Linked DNA regions of Homo sapiens: region 1 is linked to region 2. Evidence: fine-mapped expression QTL. Tissue or cell type: tibial nerve. Region 2 holds a variant in brackets; the other region holds the start of a gene. All regions are shown on one strand. Distances are from middle to middle.

What was found. PIP is the estimated chance that this variant, and not a neighbour inherited with it, causes the effect.
Region 1: PHF2 starts here. The variant in region 2 is fine-mapped to the expression of PHF2 in tibial nerve (GTEx, PIP 0.98).

What each region holds. Positions count from the first base shown.
Region 1 is chr9:93,573,675-93,578,887 of GRCh38, forward strand. PHF2 (PHD finger protein 2) reads left to right here and starts at 2,910. Exons shown (of 22, transcript NM_005392.4): 1 at 2,910-3,197. The coding sequence starts at 3,100. RefSeq lists enhancers at 1,217-1,812, 1,813-2,407, 2,089-2,368, 4,550-4,699 and silencers at 2,469-2,528, 2,639-2,938, 3,529-3,688.
Region 2 is chr9:93,618,659-93,623,871 of GRCh38, forward strand. All of the region lies in intron 1 of PHF2 (PHD finger protein 2), which reads left to right. Among named protein-coding and RNA genes, the nearest start is that of MIR548AU, 26 kb to the left of the region's middle. The variant G/A (reference allele first, on the strand shown) is at 2,084.

The sequences.
Region 1 (5,213 bases), 45 kb before region 2:
GTGAGAGAGAAGGAGGGAAGGAGGGAGGAGTGGGGAGGTGCATGTCCTGAAGGAGATGGAAAAAAGAAAGGGGAAGTCAGCTGGGCACAGTGGCTCACGCCTGAAATCCCAGCACTTTGTGAGGTGGAGGCGGGCGGATCACCTGAGGTCAGGAGTTTGAGACCAGCCTGACCAACATGGAGAAACCCCTTCTCTACTAAAAATACAAAATTAGCCAGCTGTGGTGGCACATGCCTGTAATCCCAGCTACTCGGGAGGCTGAGGCAGGAGAATCACTTGAACCCGGGAGGCGGAGGTTGCAGTGAGCCGAGATCGTGCCACTGCACTCCAGCCTGGGCAACAAGAGTGAAACTCCATTTCAAAAAAAAAAAAAAAAAAAGAAAAAGAAAAAACAAAAAGAAAGGGGAAGCCATAGGGAGAAGCCAAACAGAGGGAGCTTGTGGGCTTCTGATGACACTTGTTTTATCCCATAGATGGCAGGCAGCCATGGAAGGGCTTTGAACAAAAGGAATGTATCTGGTGGGCACAGGAGACCATCTGAAGGGCAGGGCTGGGAGGTGGGTGGGGTGGACACCCCGAACGACTAGCAGGGAGGCCGAGCTTCTCCAGACACATTCTGTGCGGTGGCTGCGGGGCAGGGAGCACAGGCCCAAGACTTGGAGACCAGCTGAGGGCTCCTCACTGGCTCCCACCCTCTGCCCTCTCACCAGGGAGCTGACATCCTCTGTCTGGCTGGATGTTTAATTGCTTAGCGCCTCAGTTTTCACTTCTGTGAAATGGCACTAATACCAATACCTAAAGGCACCAAAGGAGAGTCCTGAGTATGTAGTAATTGCCATCATGACCCAGGAATTTGCTAAGCGCTTACAAACATCTGGTTAGGTACTGGTAAAACCTCGTGAAGAACTGAGCCCAGGGCACTGTCCTGGTAAAAGCATTTGCTAAATGTTGGCTAACTACTGTCACTGTTTGTAAACAGGCTAATAGGAGTGTTAAGGGATGGGGGGATGCCCACATCAGGGCAGCCTCCCCTGCATCACAGCAGCCTCTAGAAGTTTCCAGCTTCATTTGGGCACTGCTCACCTGACTACTTTAGTACTGCTGTAAGGGTGAGGGAGAGTGTATCTATCAAGGAAGTGGGCACCACTCACCTGAAACCCGCCTTTTGGGCTCTCAACCTTCAGGCTGAGCATTCTATCTACATAATAGTAGACAATGGCTTAAGAGTTACTTCTTTCCCAGAACTTCAGTATGTAAAAAAAAAAAAAAAAAAAAAATTCCAGGCTTTCACCCAGGAGGAAGGGAACCAGTGACAACCGGAATTCAGGTAGGAAGGCCTATTGCAGGCCATCCTGGCCAGTCCAGAGGTGTGGGAGCTGGGGGTCTCCTGCTCTTTCCTCTCCCTCTATGGCCAGCTACTTCTCCCCCCGCCCCCTTCCCCAGTGCCCAGTGCTTTGGGCACTGCCCTGAGTCTGTATCCACGGGGTCACTTGTTGGGGGTGGGTGGCTGACTCTGAGGGTAGATTTTGGCTCAGTAGGAGGAAGGACCTTAATTGAGCCGCCTGCGGTGGAGCAAACGGCCCCTTGGCAGCTGCAGGTGGGCGGTGATGGTGAGGGGCTGAGGGGCTAAGGAGCCTTGTCATGGATGCTGCTAGGAGACTGAGCCAGGTTTCCTGTCCGGAGATTCTGGAATTCCGAGCAGGGGTGGCCCACATTTCCCAGCACGATGCGGATTTTGCTGAGGGAGGATGGGGAGAGAAAGAGGGTGAGGGAGGAAGGGCGGGCAGGGATGTGGCCCCTGCCCAGCGCGGATGCCCCAAGGATGCAGCGCTGGCGAGGCAGGGAAGTCCTCCTCTAGAACGCGTGCAAGTGACCCCTCAGAGCGCACCTCCGCTTCTCCTCCCCACCGTGGGGGCTCAGTTCCCTGGACACGGGGGCCAGGGTTCCCATACTCCTCGCCCCTTAGGTCACGGGCCTGGGGGGCTCAAATGCCAGGGAGCTCTCTCTTGACAGAGCTGACCAGCCCGGCCCCTTAGGTCACGGGCCTGGGGGGCTCAAATGCCAGGGAACAGAGCTGACCAGCCCGTGCCAGCGCACTCCCGGCCCGGGCTTCTGTCCTCTTCCTCTGGGGCTGAGCATCAGGGAAGTCCGCGGGATCCTGCGAGGGAGGCGGCAGTCCCCAGCCGAAAATGAGGGGAAAGAGGAAGTGGTGTCCCAACCAGAAACTCAGTGGGGAACGGAGGGAGGCAGCGCGGCCGAGGAGGAGGAACACCCCCACCGTGGTGGGGGTCAGAAGAAAGTTAGGGCCAAGTATTTGCTTGTCGGCCTTCTAGACTAGGAAGGCTCTCCTGCGGGCTCCACTCCCGCACCCCGCGTCTCTCCTTCTGCCTTGCCCGGGTTCCCCCAACTTATCTTATCCTCGGGGTCCCGCCCACCTTCTCCCCGGGGTCCCACCCCACTTTCAGTCTCAAGGCTCCCCCAGCTCACCTTCGCGCCCGCGGACCCCTGGGTCTACCTTCAGCCTTGGGGGCCCTTCTCGGCCTATCTTCCACCTTCGAGATCCCCCCACCCGCCTTCTCCCCCGGCAGGGTCCCCCCGGCCGTCTTCTCCCCCGGCAGGGTCCCCCAACCCACCTTCTCCCCCGCAGGGTTCCCCAGCCCGCCTTCCCGGCGGCGGGAGCGGCGGCCCAGGCCGGCGGGCGGAGGCGGCGCCACCCGGGGCGCTGACGTAGAGGCCGCTCGGCGGCCGGGGGTCCCTTCGGTGGGGCCGCGGCTCCCCGCCCGCCGCCCCCGCGCGTCCATTCCCTTTTGTGTCCCGCGCGCGGCCCGTCCCCCGCGCACACTAGCGCCCTGAGCCCCGCGGGCCGGCGGGCGGCTCCCGGCGCGGCCCCTCCAGCCAGCGCGCCCGGCATTGTGTGGACGCGCCTGGCCGGGAGCGCGCGCGGGGGCTGTCGTGCGCCCCCGTCCCCGTCCCCTCCCGGCCGCGGCGCCGCCTGCGCCCCGCCGCCCCCGCCGCCCCCGCGCGGCCCGGCCCCCGGCCCGGCCCGGACCGACCCGGGCAGCGCAGCGGCGGGGCCGAGCGGCGGCGCGGCGCGGCAACATGGCGACGGTGCCCGTGTACTGCGTCTGCCGGCTCCCCTACGACGTTACCCGCTTCATGATCGAGTGCGACGCCTGCAAGGACTGGTTCCACGGCAGGTGAGCGCGCGGCGGCTGCTCGGCTCGGCCCGGCCCGGCCCGGCCACCTTGCCCGACCGAGCCCCGCGCCCCCGGCTGCGCGCCCGCAGGCCCGGCTCGGGGACGGGCCGCCGCCGCCGCCGCCGCATTCCGGGCGCCCCGGTCGGGGCTGGGCCGTGCCGGGCCGCGCGCCCTTTTGTGCCCAGGGCGGGGGCGCCAAGCACGGGGCCCGCGCTGGGCGCCCCTGGCCGCCGCGCACAAAGCGAGGCCCGCGGGCCGGGAGGTGGGCTCGGGGCTCGGGGCGCGGGGAAGTTGGGGCTCCAGGCCCGGGCCGGGCCGCCTGTCAGCTGGGTCGCGGCGGCCGCAGAGGCCGGGCATCCGGAGGGAGGCCGAGGCCCGGAGCCCCCGCCGCCTCCCCCCTGCGAAGTTGCAGGAACTTTCCCCGCGCGGGCTCGGGGTTGGCCGGGCCGGGAGAAGCGGGCGCGCAGCCCGGCGCGGGTCCCGGGAGAGGCGCGAGTGGCGGGCTCCGACTCCGGCAGGGCTGGGGAGTCCGTGGGGGCTCCGGCGAGGTGGCAGCCGGCGCGCCCACCCTCCGCCGTGGCCGGCGAGCTCCCTTGGACCTTGTCCCCGAGGGCAGGACCCCTCCCGGACCCCCGCGGAGCAGCTAGACCCGGCAGGCCTGCAGGTCCGCGGGCAGGAGTGCGGTGACAGAATAGTGTCTGTGAGTTGGGTAAGGGGGGTTTGTTGTGGCTTTGCCACCTCCTCCCTGGCCTTCAGTTTTCCCCGTTTCTCTCCTCTCCGTTCCCGGCAGGAACGCCGGTTTTGACATGATCTTATGCTCCCTAAGGAAGATGGGGAGGGGGGAAGGAGGTAACGCTTGGAGACACTGAAAACCCCCGCCCTCTTGGCCCTTGCCGATGGCCATGACCTGGCCCCATGCCTAGGGCAGGTCCCTTCCCACCAAGAAGTAAATGGAGGAGGAGGAAGAGGAGGTGACAGTGTTGCCCAAACTGCTCCAACAGGTTCTCTTGCATCTGACTTTGCCTGTGGGATGTGTTTGGACCCGGGGCTGGCCAGGGCTGTATGCCCTCTGGGGCTCCAGTCCCAAACCACCGGCAGCAAGCAGCCGGGGGAAAGAGAGGGGTGTGTGGTGGTGGGTGGTCCGGGATTCTCCTTCCAGAGAGGAGATCCTCCTGCAGGTTCTAAGACTGGGTCTTCAAGACTGGTCAGTGGTGCTTAAGAGTGGGCTGTGGCCCCAAGTCCAGTCCTGCCAGTTTACATGTGGGGACCTGGGTGGCTGGGATGTGACAGGGCCTGCTATGTCTGTCAGCCCCAGTCCTGAGTCCTACCTCCCTGCTGTTAGAAGGGCCTGGGACTCTGTGGGGTGGGGATGCCCACGGAAATCTGGGCTGCCTTCCTGGGTATGCCCAGGGCTGTGGAAGCCCCTTAGAGCAAGGGAGACTGAGTGTGAACACCGGGCTCTGCCCAGAACAGGGCTGACATGCACACCCTCAACTGGCAGCCGTTGAGAAGTTCATGGCCGGGCCAAAGTGAGTGAGAGCCTCTAAGGCTCCTCATATCCAGGGATGCTGAGCTGCTGGCCCTGAAAAGCCCTGAAAGTGGTGGGGCCTCTGCCTTCTCCCCCATCTCCACCGGAGCCCTGACCTGGCGAGCGCAGTCACTCTGCTACAGAACCTTCTGGGCACCTGTGTCAGCTCCTGGCTGCTGCCCACACTCGGGGCCCAGAGTAGGGAGAGTGAGAGAACGCGAGAAGACCTTTGTCTCGCTGCTTAGGGGACCCTCTGGGAAGGGAAGGCTAGTTCTGAACTAGACTTCGAGGCCAAGGGAAAAACTCCAGGAATGAGGGGCAGGCAGGCGACAGGGGCTGAGAGCTGGCCTGAGAGCTGGTTGGTGTCATTTGCTGTATTGGCCCATGCAAAAAATCCCCAAAAGGGGGATGTCTGGGGAGGCTCTAGCTCCTTTTTTTCTTATTTGAGGTCTCTGATTGAATCCAATACAGGCAGTTGATCAGCACAG
Region 2 (5,213 bases):
AGATCTACTTTATTTTTAAAAATTGTAATATTAATAGCATCCTGGTCACACAGCACTCTGCGCTTGCACACCTGTGTGTATGTGTGTGTGTATGCCTGTGTTTGTGTGTCTGCATGTGTTTGTGTTTGTATCTGTGTATTTCTGTGTATGAGGGTGTCTGCATGTGTGATGTGTGTGGTGTGTGTGTGTGCCTGTGTGTGGTGTTCGTGTGTCTCTGTGTTTGCATATGTTTGTGTGTGTGTGTATGTGCGTCTGCATGTGTGGTGTGTGAGTTTGTATGTGTGCTAAGCCAGGTCCCAGGCCTCACTCTAGTGCTTGTTCACTTCCCTGTGGGTCTGATCCTCTTCCAGCTGCTCACAGGCAGCTGCCTGTCCTTGCCCACCATGTGGTACACTGGGGGTCTGCAGACCTCGCTTGCCTGTGCAGAGGTGGATCACCCCCAGGCCTCACTGGCTCAGGCGGATGTTCTCCGCTTCTCCTTTGTAGCTCTGAGGCCTGGGTCTGTCCTTGGTCCTTGCCCTACCCTTTCCCTCAGTGTGCCTTTACGAGACCCCTGCCCAGCCATCTCCTGGCTCCTGGGAGGTCACAAGCTGAGACACAGACCCTTGGGCCTGTGAGTGGGTGGAAACACTGCTCTCGTTGGAGCCCATCTCTTAGGGACCAGGCGACTTGATCCTCACTGGCCGAGGAGGACTTGCTCAGAGGGCCTGATTCGGCGTCCTGGGCTGGCATCCTGGGCTGGCACTTTGCTCCGCTGACCTTGCCTGTACGAGGCTGAGCATTCCAAGTGTCCTCAGGGTGGAGGGTGGAGGCCAAGAAGGCGACTCGTGGGGTGGTGGATGCGGGCCTTCACCAGGCTGGTGCTCAGATGGCCCCCAGTGGCCTGTGCTCCACGCCTGCTGGTAGCCCCTGGTGGCCTGTGCTCCACGCCTGCTGGTGGTTCCTGGTGGCCTGTGTGCCATGCCTGCTGGTGGCTTCCGGTAGCCCGTGCTCCATACCTGCTGGTGGCACCCCGTGGCCCGTGCTCTATGCCTGCTACCCAGCCCTGGTGGGCCTGTTGCGGCCCCTGAAGTTTGCACTTCGGCCAACAAGCTTCTGTTGTCGCAGGAAGAAACTCAGGGGGTGCTGCTCTTAGCCAGGGTTAAAAAGGGAAAGGGGCCGGCCAACTTTGCCTTTTTGTTGATGTTCTGTTTAATACTAAGGTCCTGGGGTGACATTTGTGCCCCTGGTGGCCTCTGAGGTCTGTGTGTGGCCAGGCACCGCCTCTCTCAGCTCCTGGGTTTTCTCCTGGTCTGGTCTGCCCTGAGTTTTTGGAGAAGCAGAAGCCCTGCTTAGCACAGCCTTAGAAGGCGTCCCTGGGCTTCAGCTCAGCCAAATGCCCTGCTCTCCCTCGGACTCTGCAGTCCTGGCTCACCTGACCACAAGCAGCCTGTGACCTGCTCTTTCTGCAGATGTGGGTGGGCTCCCGGGACAGACCTGCAGGGCCCAGCCTGGGAGTGTACAAGGCTAGGTGGCCAGCGGCCTGCAGAGGGCTCCAGCTCCTGTTCCCAGGAGGGAGAGGCCCACCTTCTGTCTTCTGAAAGGTCTGAGTCTGGGGCCCTGGTTCTGTGAGGACCGTCCTCACCCACTTCCCCACATCTGGGTCCTCATGGAGCCTCTGTCTGTGTCCTGGGATGCATCCCCACGCTGGGGCAGGGGCAGCAGGTGAGGCACGAGGGCCTGTCTGCAGGACATAGGTGGACGAGTGGGCCTGGCTGGGGGATCCTTTGTGAGCTCAGCTCCTGTGAGCCAGCACTGTCCCCATGGGCGACAACCTTTGAAGTCAGCAAGATGTGGCTGCTTGCCTCTCAGGTGGCCCACGATGGGCTTCCTGCAGAGGGCAGAGTGGACACAGGCCACAAGCACGTGGATATCTGGGAATTGCCCACTCTGCATTAGTGAGGGGTTGAGGTTGGTTTTTTGTTAATGAGAAGCTTGTGCTTGTTTTTGTCTCTGAAATAATGAAGTCATCTGCTAACATGGCCTTGGGATGCTGTAACTGTTTTGGTGTTACCTAGTCTCCTTCAGATTCTCAGTATCTTAT[G/A]CTCCTGGCTTTAGTGTGAGGAAAATATTTTCCATTTTTCTGTAGTTATTATTCTCCTCTTATTTTTCGTTTTGCCAATTTTCTGAATAATTTCTTAGGGGGCATTTAGAAAGCCCTAATTCTGGTACAATAAAATAAATGCCCAGTGTCGGCAAACAGTCTCTTCTGTGAGAACAGGATGGCCCCTAATGGAGCTCACTGTGCTGGAGCTTGCACAATCGAAGCCCTGGATCCTCGTTAGGTGCTGTCTCCTTGGCATATAGCCACAGCTAGTGGCAGAGCCAGGCTGAATGCCCTGAGACTTAGTTTCACCTGCCAAGTGGCCACTGTCGGGGTTGGTGGCACAGGCAGCAGGGGTTGGAGCAGCAATGCAGATGTAGGGTCGGTGCTAGCAGGGGATCTGGCCTGGATCCCTGTGGAGGGTCTACTTCCTTCAGCCTTGGAGGGGCAGGAGGGGCAGCCCAGTGGTCACCCCCCACAACCCTGGTGGGCGGGCCCTGGATGCAGCCCCTGCCTCTGGCCCAGGCACCTAGGTGGTGAGGGGGTGCTGAGGCCTTTGGTTCTCTGAGCTTCTTTTGGGCGGCAGAAGGACCCTTCCACCATGACCACCTCTCTTTTCTCTCAGTCTCTTGGGGTCTCCTGCACAAAGCAGTAAATGACTGACCAAGGCAGCTGTCCTGGCCAAGGTGAGGCCTTTCACCTGTGCCACCCAGTTCATCCTCCCAGCAGATGGCCCAGGGGTGGGTGGTGCTGGAAGGAGGAAGCCCACAAGGGGCCCCTCCTTGTGCAAGTGGATTGGCTGTGCCAGGGCAGAGCGTCCTAAAGTGGACACTGGCCCAGAGCCTGGAGCCACACAGGTGGGCACGTTATGGAGGGCGGGGCCAGGTGTGAGGACTGGATCCCCACCTGACCTTTGTGCCTCTGAGTCCTTGTGCTGGCCGTGCACGTTCTTGTGACCCCTGAGCCTCGGCCTTCCCCCCTGTAAAGTAGGCTTGTGCTGTCTGCCCCCAGGATCCAGGACCCCGTGCCAATATCCAGAGCTGAGGAGCCTGATTCTTGGTGGGGAGGTGTATTTTAAGGACATGTTGATTTCCATCCTTGTTGACTGACTGCAGCTCTAACTCCCATGTGGCCTTTGGACAGGGCAGTTCCCTCTGCACCCTTAGAGCCGAGGTCTGGAGAGCCCTTCAGCTCCTGTGGTGCACCAACCCCTGGACTATTAAAAGGATGTTGTTCATTGGGGACGTGCCCAACCACCTGGGGCATTTGGGGGCCTTTCCATGCACCAAGGTGGTCCAAGCTGTGGGTGCAGCTCCTAGCCATGGCTTGTCCTTCCTGTGCTGAGTCACTGGCTCACCATGGCTGTTGTCACCTTGTCCCTGCTATATCACAGGGAGGGGTGAGGCCTGGGTGGCCAGAGGGATGGAGTTTGAGGAGACTAGGACTTCCTTACATTCACAGGCACTGCTGGGGCCTCATGTGGGCTTCAGTTTGGGCTTGGGGTCTGGTCAAGGCCCAGCCAGCCTGTCCATACACCGAGCCTGAGGTCACCCTGAGGTGTGTTTCTTAGCTCGGTCGGCAGAATAACAGCCCCCGCTGTCACCCATGTCCTAATCCTGCAACTTTAAGTAGCATTGCAAGAGGGGAGGAAGGGAAGCTGTGGATGGAGTTGGGGCTGTTCAGCCAGCTGTGGATGGGGAGACTGTCCTGGATGACCCAGCAGCTGCAGCGTCATCACAGTGGTCCTTAGGAGGGGAGGAGGGTTGAGTCAGGGCAACGTCTGTGAGAGCTCGGCTGGCCATCACTGGCTTTGAACATGGAAGGGGCCGGGAGCCAGGGAGTGCAGATGGCCTCTAGGAACTGGAGGAGGTGGGAACAAATTCTCCCTAGAGCTTCCAGAGGGAGCTGCCCTTGCCCACACCTTGATTTTAGCCCGGTGAGACCCATTTGGACTTCTGACCTCCAGCCTGGAGAGTGAATCCTTCAGGGGGCTCCTGTCCAAAGGCCCTGTGAGGATCCTGGTGTCTCTAGCCCCTCACGCCAAGTCTTGTCCCCAGAACAGGCATGTTCCAGGGAGTGCTGGCCCTGCTAACTGAGCCCCGAGTCTGTCTGTCTGTTCTACTCTGAGTTTGGTGGTCTGACCTCTGACCTTCTGCCTGAGGGTCAGCACCAACCCATAAAGGCCTGACAGGCAGGTGTGTGTGATGGGCCATGTGTGTGCAAGGGCCCTGCTGGGATGGTGGCAGAATCAGGTCAGGTTGGTGTAGCCTGTCCTGTGCCTTCATCTGCTCCAGATGCTGCAGTGAGGGCACAGCCTGGAGCAGCCAGGGGCCAGGTGAGGGTGTGGACATGGGGCATGGGTGTGACTGTGTATGTGGGCATGGACATGGAGTGTGGTTGTGGCTGTGGATGTGGATTTGGGGTCTCACATGGATGTAGGGTCTGATGTGCAATGTGGATTCTGGGTCTAATTTCTGGGCTGCAAGAGCTCAACCAGCTCCAGGGCAATATATTATAACATGTATGCTTGAAGTGAGTAATGATGGTGCTGAAGGGACTGTCTTCAGCTCCCAGTTCATCTGGTCCCACAAAAGTCTTTGCATGTGGCTGATACTTGGTGTCACTGATGAGAACCTGAGGTATATGTGGCACTGTAGTGAGTGCACGTGACGTTTTCTAGCCCTGTCCTGCCCTCCTCTGTGCTGAGCTCTTCTTCACATGCCATAGTGCTATGCCCTGGTCCTGTTCCTGGCTTTGGGCCTTTGCTTCTATTGGGCAGACACCCTTATAAACTTCATGAAGGAAGAATATTAACACTGTGCATTTTAAAGTTTGTTTTGGTATTTTGGAGCATAATTTTCATTCATCAATGTTCTGAGTTTCCTTTCCAATTTTTCTTTGTTTCATTATGAAGATGCTCTCACTTTGCACCCTGAGAGCAGAAAAATATTCCCTCATGTTGTGCTTTTGATGGCTTTTCTTTTACACTTGACTCTTTGGAGTGTGTGGACTTGACTTTAGCTTGTATTCTAAGATAGAGTGAACTTTATATTTTCAAAAACAATTTGCCAAGATCTTTTTCTGGGCTTCATGCTCTGTTCCCAGAACTCAAGACTGTGGTGGCTGTGGA